Regions from separate parts of the Homo sapiens genome. Here region 1 is linked to region 2. Evidence: fine-mapped expression QTL. A gene starts in region 2. The other region holds a variant in brackets. All regions are shown on one strand. Distances are between the middles of the regions. Region 1 overlaps LOC105377529 (a long non-coding RNA gene). Region 2 holds the start of NEK1 (NIMA related kinase 1).

Region 1 (4,399 bases), 320 kb before region 2:
AAGTTTAGCTTGCTTGCCCGCCACTCAACTCCTGCTGTGTGACACAGTACCAGTGATGGCCCCTAGGGGTAGGGGACCCCTGCTTTAAGAGAAAAAAGCCATCCCATTCAGAAGCACACATTGCATTTCTTTCTCATGTGTCTTTAATTTTCTTCAACTTGGAAATTATTTCTCATTCTTGAATTCTTTTTAAGTTTATAGGCCAGATATATTGTAGAATTTGGGTTTGAAAATATTCCTCATTATTAGATTCAAATTATGCACCTTTGGAAAAAAATTCAATGAAGCAAGAAGCAACATTGTATTCCTCGTGTCAGATGGCACATGCCTTGGATTTGTTGTCCAATTTGATAGCTTATTTAAGATGATGTCTTTTCTTCTTCTCCAGCATGAATTTATGTTTTCTTTCTCTAGTATTCTTTCAGGAAGTACTTTGAAACTAAGTAAATACTCTCTTATCAAACTTTTAATTTATTCATATATTTATATGTACCAATATGTACTCATGGTTCTTAATTTCCTTCAAAGGACTATATGTGTTACTATCATTAATTCATAATTTTGATGCTTAATTTCTCCCAGTCCAGTGAAGGAAAATGATAGCCAGAAACACAGGTGTAACAACAGGCTTATTGACTTAGCCGGGCTTAATAGGGTGTAGTCAGGGAACAGCTTTGTTTTCTTCCACTCTTGCCTCAAGCATTTTTTGTCAGAAACATTTTCCTTGCTCTTGGTGACTTTTCCGATAGATCCCATGAGTTTTTCAGTCACTTCAGATTCTAACAACACTACCATTTTTAGATTATGTAGTTCCATCCAACCTAAAGTAAAACCTCAGTATCTCATCCAATTCAAAGTTTATCCTCTCTCCCTAGCTCAGGCCTGATTCACTACCTTCCATGCCACTGGCTAGGAGGGGTCTGATTGCTCCTGTTACCTACCTGCCCCCCTGTATTAGTCTGTTTTCACACTGCTATAAAGATACTACCCGAGACTGGGTAATTTATAAAGGAAGGAAGTTTAATTGACTCACAGTTCTGCATGGCTGGGGAGGCCTCAGGAAACTTATAATCATGGTGGAAGGGGAAGCAGACACCTTCTTCACAAGGTGGCAGGAGAAAGCGAAGGGGGAAGAGCCCCTTGTAAAACCACCAGATCACATGAGAACTCACTCACTATCATGAGAACAGCATGGGGAAACTGCCCCCCGATCCAGTCACCTCCCTCCCTCTACACATGGGGATTACAAATTAGAGATGAGATTTGGGTTGGGACACAGAGCCAAACCATATCACCCCCACAAGGCTCCTCCAGAGTTGGGGTGGGCAGTGTGGGGGCGGGGAAGAAGGCACGCCAGCAGCACTGTTTGCACTTTTCTCTTGCCTGTCATATGACCTCTCTCACATCACATTTTCAAATTCTAGTTCTTTCTTGGTGTGCGGCAGTTGAGCCTTTGGAGATTTCCCTGAAATTTTATCTCTTTGGGGGAGTCTTACATAAGAATCAGCTTTTAGATTTATTTCCCCTTTATACTTTGTTTTCTGTTCATTAATTTTCATCTTTATTCTCTCTTCCAAATTTATGTTTTGTTTATTTTGGTGTTCTTGTTCTAAATTTTTTAACTGGACCTTAAATATTTTTTAACTTTTTTTCCTTTTTTTTTGAGACAGAGTCTCACTCTGTCACCCAGGCTGGAGTGCAGTGGCACGATCTCGACTCACCGCAACCTCTGACTCCTGGTTCAACCATCATGCCTGGCTAATTTTTGTATTTGTTGAAGAGGCAGGGTTTCACCATACTGGCCAAGCTGGTCTCAAACTCCTGACCTCAAGTGATCTGCCTGCCTTGGCCTCCCGAAGTGCTGGGATTACAGGGGTGAGCCACTGTGCCTGGCCTAAATTTTTTCCTTAATAATAAAATATTTAAGGCTATGAATTCCCATAGGAATAATTTGAACTATGTTGTGTATATTTTGGTATGAACTTTTTCCTCATTGCTTTGTATATGGTTTGTAATTTCAGTTTTGTTTACATTTTGATAAGAGTTATTTAGAATATTGTTTCTTTCTTCTTTTTTTTTTTGAGACAGAGTCTCGCTCTGTCACCCAGGTTGGAGTACAGTGGCACAATCTCAGCTCACTGCAACCTCTGCCTCCTGGGTTCCAGCTATTCTCATGCCTCAGCCTCCCAAGTAGCTGGGACTGCAAGCACG[C/T]ACCACCACACACAGCTAATTTTTTTTTTCTTTTTTTCTTTCTGTATTAGTAAAGATGGGGTTTCACTATGTTGCCCAGGCTGGTCTCAAACTCCTGGCCTCAAGTGATCCATCCACCTCAGCCTCCCAAAGTGCTGGGATAATAGGAGTGAGCCACCGCACCTGGCCTAGAATATTTTTTCTTAATTTTCAAGTAATTAGAGGGTTTTTTGAGGGGTATCCCTTTTCATTACTTACTCCTTTTATTTTCTTTTTTGGATTATAATCAGGGAATGTGGCCTATAAAATCTCTACTCCTGTATATTGACTTAGATATCCTTTGGAAACAAAAACAAGATTAACTTTTGTAAATGTTCCATTAAAACACAAAAGAAATATAGTTATGAAATGTAACATTCCATACATGTTTTAGGTCAAATTTGTTGTTTGTTTTATTCTATTCTTCTGTTTCTATTTATTTTGTCTGTTAGATATATGTGAGTCTGAAAAAGGTGTGTTAAAATCTCCTAACATAAAGATTATGCTTTATATGTTTAGCTACTACAATGATTGGTGAACATGACTTATGATTGTTATACCTCTGTTATCAATTTGCCTTTTGTCATTACATATTAATATGCATGCTGTTTGGACCGCTAATAGGACCGCTAGACTTGACTTCTTTTGATTTATATTTATCTGGTGGATCTTTTTTTTTTTTTGAGATGGAGTCTCGCTCTGTTGCCCAGGCTGGAGTGCAGTGGCACGATTTCAGCTCACTGCAACGTCTGCCTTCAAGCGATTCTCCTGCTTCAGCCTCCCAAGGAGCTGGGATTACAGGTGCCTGCACCACACCTGTATAATTTTTTTGTATTTTTAGTAGAGAAGGGGTTTCACCATGTTGGCCAGGCTGGTTTCGAACTCCTAACCTCAGGTGATCCACCCGCCTTGGCCTCCCAAAGTGCTAGGATTACAGGCGTGAGCCACCGTGCCCGGCAGTATCTTTTTACATATCCTCTGAAGTTTAACTTTTCTTTCTCACTTTGTTTAAAGTGAGTTTCTTTTGTTTGTTTGTTTGTTTGTTTGAGGCGGAGTCTCCCTCTATCACCCAGGCTGGAGTGCAATGACATGATCTGGGCTCACTGCAACCTCTGCCTCCTGGGTCCAAGTGATTCTCCTGCCTCAGCCTCCTGAGTAGCTGGGATTACAGGCATGTGCCACCACGCCCAGCTAATTTTTGTATTTTTAGTAGAGACAGGGTTTTGCCATGTTGGCCAGGCTGGTCTTGAACTCCTGATCTCCAGTGATCCGCCCGCCTCAGCCTCCCAAAATGCTACGATTACAGGTGTGAGCCACAGTGCCTGGCCTAACGTGGGTTTCTTAAGTAATATGTGTTTGGGTTTTGATTTTTAAATCACACCGTCAGTTGCCACTAGTTATTATCCTACTACTTTCTGATATTAAAGTTGTAGTTAGAAATCTAAAGCCAGTCTTAATCTTTTTCTATGTAAACAATTTGTTCTTTCTATCTAGAAGACTGTAGAACTTTGTCATTACCCTTGGAATTACAACACAGTAATGGAATCTCTAGTGTGTTCCGGTTTTCATCCCCTGTTCCTTGAAACTCAAAGAATTCTGAGGATGAAACTCTTTCTTTAGCTCTGTAAAATTTTCTTCACCTGTTTGTTTAAATATTGTCTCTCCTCCTTCGATTGCTTTACTCTTCTGAAATTCCTATTTATTTACAAGTTACAACTTCTAGATCCATCTTCTGGTTCCTTTATATTTGCTTTTTTGATGTCTGACTTTAAATGTTTGCTTTTTTGAGAGATTTCTTTCCCTTGTACTTCCAGACCTCTGTTCACTTCTCAATAGTTACCATACACTTTTTCAGTACATCTGCTATATTTTTAAACTTAAAAAATCATGTTCTTGAGTTCCAGTTTAACGCTGTAATTGAAGCTCCTCAATTGCACTAATTACTTTTTCTGTTCAAGTTGCCATGCCCTTTTTCAGCAGTTCTATTTTGCTGGCAACCGCCATTTCTGGATGCTCTGCTCACTCTTCCCCATTCTGGCTTTGTTGTTCCTTTGCCTATGTTATTCACCTGGGGCCAGGTCTTCAGCAGCAGCTATCTCTTGAGTACAGGAGGCTCCATGGTCTCTGATCCTGTAGACAGACAAGTCCTCAGCTGGAAAATGCTTATCTT
Region 2 (4,399 bases):
CTGCCTCCCGGGTTCAAGCAATTATCCTGTGTTAGCCTTCCAAGTAGCTGGGATTACAGGCACGCACCACCACGCCCGTCTAATTTTTTGTATTTTTGGTAGATATGGGTTCGCCAGGTCAGCCAGGCTTGTCTCAACCTCCTGACCTCAAGTGATCCACCCACCGTGGCCTCCCAAACTGCTGGGATTACAGGTAAGAGCCACAGCACCCAGCCACTAAGAATTTCTTTAAAGCCACAAATAAGCAATTTTGGACATAATAAAATTTTGTGAGCCACATATAAACAATTTTAGAGTATATGAATGGAAAAGCTCAACTTCGATCAATCTGGAACACATACTTAGGTTAAGCATTAAGCTCTCATCAGGTGTTTCAGATATTCTATAGACAGGCTGTCTTGAAGGGAAACATGGTAAAGGCATGGCAACAGGTTTCAAGAAGTCTTTTGGCGCTGTATGCAGCTACAATCCATACATACAGTTCTGCCTAAGCAATAAATACCATCTTGAATAGTGGGAGGGGATCCATTTATCTTCTCAGGAAAAAAGTTCTTTATCTTCCTTTATTCGAAAAAGCAGAAAGCAAAAATGGAATTTCTATTAGACTTTTTTCAAAATATTTTTTCTTCTCTGTAAGTCTATTCAGACAATATTCAACAGATTTTGTAGTAGAAACTACCAACAGGTAAATAAAGAATGTACATTCGTGAAAAGGTGTCATGTTCATGACTTAGACTAGAAGGCAGGAGATTAGACAGGGCAAAATTTACTTGGAATACAATGTCAATGTACTATTCACACGACCTCAAAAGAACTTCTGTGGTCAAGTCCGACGACCTTTATTAAATTCCTGACAGTGACTTTTAACGTGAAAAAAACCTGTTTTCCCACAAAATAGGCTCCTTACATTTCACCTAGAACAATGGATATTTTAAGTGAAACAGATCTGTAGAACCTCTAAAACCAGACAAATGTAAACTAGAAACAAGGAGTTACTTCTCTCCAAATTTGGCTCCCCTCCATCAGCTCTACAATACTGCTGCATCATAAAAAAAGGTCATTAACTTAGATTGGATGCCACTTTTAATCCTTCATAAACATTTCTAATGAAACATACCAAGGCAATAAAAAATATTTCTGCTTCCTAAAGCAGATCTTAAAGAACAAAAAATAGGCCTGCAAAAAAAGTTATGATAAACTCTTAAAGTAGTACAACAATTAATGCCTTACATATGGAAACTGTGTCAAATCATGGAAACAGAAATCTAAGATTACAGGGTAACCAGCTAACTACTACTCATATTCGCTTCCTAATTAAAATTTATCAGTAATTTAAGATTGGACACAACATAAGCAATGCAAATGCTTGCTTATCCATACTAAGATTCCTATTATTTTAATCCCATTACCGCTCTAGTTTTTAAAAATACCGTAATGTCCAAGAATCGCTTTGTTAATACAGAGTGTCTTAGAGAATTAACATTTAAATGAGATTAAGGTATTTTCCCTGCAAACACTTAAGGTATCTGTGTAATCTCAATATAAGCAGTTCTACGCACATCTCATTTCCAGGATGATTTTTACCATTTTGCATGTCATTCCTTCCCCCAAGTGGAACTCACCTCAGTGACACAGGACGTTAGTAGGAATAACGGTGATGACTAATAAGCATCAGTCTAGGTGTGGCAGTCTTCCTACGGGGCTTAATAAAGCAGAGGTACCATCCCGCATTTTGAAAATGACATCCTGAAAGAGAAACCAAGACTGTCTAACCAGCAGCAGCTCACAGTCCAGACTGAAAGGGGGCACTGAGACTCTCCACACCTGACACTCGTCTTCAGTTGATACCACGGGTTTGACTCCGTCCTGTCTCGGGCGACGCCCGTAAGACAGGTCGACACTACCCCGACGAAACAAACAAACTGGTTTCTGAGCCCCGTAGAAACGGCGGGGTGCAGCAGGGGGAGTGCCTCCGTTACCGCCTCTCCAACTTCACAGAGGTCGTTGCTAGTGGCCACGGCGGGGTGGGGACGGGCGGCGTTCGGGACTGGGAAGCTACTTGACTGCCACGTGCTCCTGCCTCGCAACAGCGGCTCTAGATTCCGAGTTATGGGGACAACTGCTCGAGAGGCCAGGGTAGGGTAAGGACTCCGCAACCTAGGGTCCCAAAACCCTGGAGCGAATGCGGACTAAGGGAGAGCGGCCGGCGCGTCACCGGCGCTGGCGTGTGACGTCAGCGCGTGGAAGGCGGCACGCAGCGGAGGCGGCTGGGAAGGAGCAGTGAGGCTGGGCTAGAACCGTAGGGTCGGGCGGGGTGCTGTGCGAAGGGGCGGGCGGGGTGCTGTGCGAAGGGACGGGAGGGGCGGGCTCTGCAGGCGGGAAGACAGAAAGGACGAGACGGGAGAGATGAAAAGGATGGAGAGAGTGTAAAGCTGTTAAGAGTCATGCAGAGATGCGGGAGAGAACTCACTAGTTGAAACCAATTTGGAATATAAAGCATATAAAATTTTCCCACAGCTACTACACCGAGAAAGGGACTTTTTTATTTTACATGAAAGCGCACTACTTAGGGATGCCACATTTTAAAGAGCAATTTTGCTTTAAAAAGCAAGTCTTTTCCTATTATATCTTGGATGGTTGAAACAGAAGAATGTTTAAGTCTTGAGATATTTTTAAAAAGCTGTATGGGGTTTTCTACACCTTTACATCTAATGTATGTATAAATTACTTGTCTGTATGTTGAAGGGTTTGGAAATGTACAGCAGTCTAAGTACATTTTTTCACTGCAGGACTGGCGAAGGTAGGAAGAGATTCCCCTAAAACTATAATAAGGGATATCATCTGGCGTCATCCTGAGTGGCCCTACTCAGGGCAACTTTATTCCTAGGGACATTGAAAGATTTTGGCGGCTTTGCCAGACGATGGCGCTGCAAGTCACCCAACCTGAAAAGCTGGAGAGTTTGTTTTATCTCCTCTTCAATCGCCATACAGCTACAAAAGACTTATTTTCCTCATTCTTTCTACTTCTAGTCTACACTCCTGTGGGCCCTCCTACCCCCAGTTAGTAGGAATTATCATGTCTGAATGCACAATTGTAGTTCTACCCACATCCTTTTGTACATCAAAGTGAAGTGAAATGTTGCCAATTACTAATCTAAGCAAATTCTTTTTGCTGCTTACAGGAAGAATGGCTAGTCAGCTAACCTCCTTAGATAATTCTTTAGGCTCATGTCATAAACTATTGGTAGGACTACAAACTGCTACAGTCTTTCTAGAAGGTATGCTAGCAGTATGCATATCCTTTGACTCAGCAATTTAACTTCTGGAACAAGTGAGCAATGATTTATATACAAGGATAACCGTTATTGTTTATAACCAGAAAAACTAGAAATACTGTAAATGTATAACAATAAAGAATTGATTAAATTATAATATATCCAAACAATGAAATACTCTAAAGCCATTTAAAAGAGTAATCAAGATCTACTTTATTGACATACAAAGATACCATTGATATATTGATGAGTAAATAAAGCAGGTTACCTAAGAAGATTACCTGATTTCCCTTTCTGGTTTATATACCCCTGTACAATTGATTTTTTTTTTTATTTTTAAACAAGAGTGCTTTGGGGTTTCTTTTTCTTTAAATATTTTATTGGACTTTTCTTTCAAACAAAAAAGTTTTTGCTTCTTGCAACAAGCCAGTAACACAAGTACACAAAGATAAAGCCTATCGTCTCCTTCCCAGAGCTCTTCTGTGCTGTCCTCCACGAAACCAATGTTAACAGTTAATTAATATCATCTACATTTTTCTCTAAGTTCCTAAAAACATAAGCATGCATTTTTATATTTTATATATTAGTCTTAGTCTTTTATTTACTTATTTATTTTGGAGACAGGGTCTCATTCTGTTTCCCAAGCTGGAGTGCAGTGGCGCGATCTTAGCTCCCTGCAACCTCCGCCTTCCAGGCTCAAGTGATTCTCCCACTTCAGCCTCCCGAGCAGCTGGGACCATGGGTGCGTGCCATCACACCTGGCTAATTTCGGTATTTTTTTTGTAGAGATAGGGTTTTTGCCATGTTGCCCAGGCTTCTTGTGTGTGTGTTTTGTAGAGATGGGTTCTACCATGTTGCTCAGGCTGGTTTTGAACTCCTGAGCTCAAGTAATTCTGCCTGCTTTGGCCTCCCAAAGTGCTGGGATTACAGGCGTGAGCCACTGTGCCTAGCCGGGACTATAGTATACATATTATTTTGCAACGTACATTTTTAAATTTAATAGTATATGAACATCTATGCGGATATCAACTAATTCTTGTGAATGATATTGATATTTCATGATATGGCTATACCAAAATCTACTCCATTCAGTAGACATATTGTTTCCAATGGTATAATTACTT

What was found. PIP is the estimated chance that this variant, and not a neighbour inherited with it, causes the effect.
Region 1: its variant is the best candidate, but not a certain one, in a credible set for the expression of NEK1 in whole blood (INTERVAL, PIP 0.85).

Annotation. Positions count from the first base shown.
Region 1 is chr4:169,287,049-169,291,447 of GRCh38, forward strand. All of the region lies in intron 2 of LOC105377529 (a long non-coding RNA gene), which reads right to left. Among named protein-coding and RNA genes, the nearest start is that of SH3RF1, 18 kb to the left of the region's middle. RefSeq lists a silencer at 3,291-3,455. The variant C/T (reference allele first, on the strand shown) is at 2,212.
Region 2 is chr4:169,610,398-169,614,796 of GRCh38, forward strand. NEK1 (NIMA related kinase 1) reads right to left here and starts at 2,186. Exons shown (of 36, transcript NM_001199397.3): 1 at 1,825-2,186; 2 at 1,623-1,746. RefSeq lists enhancers at 1,659-1,778, 2,199-2,258.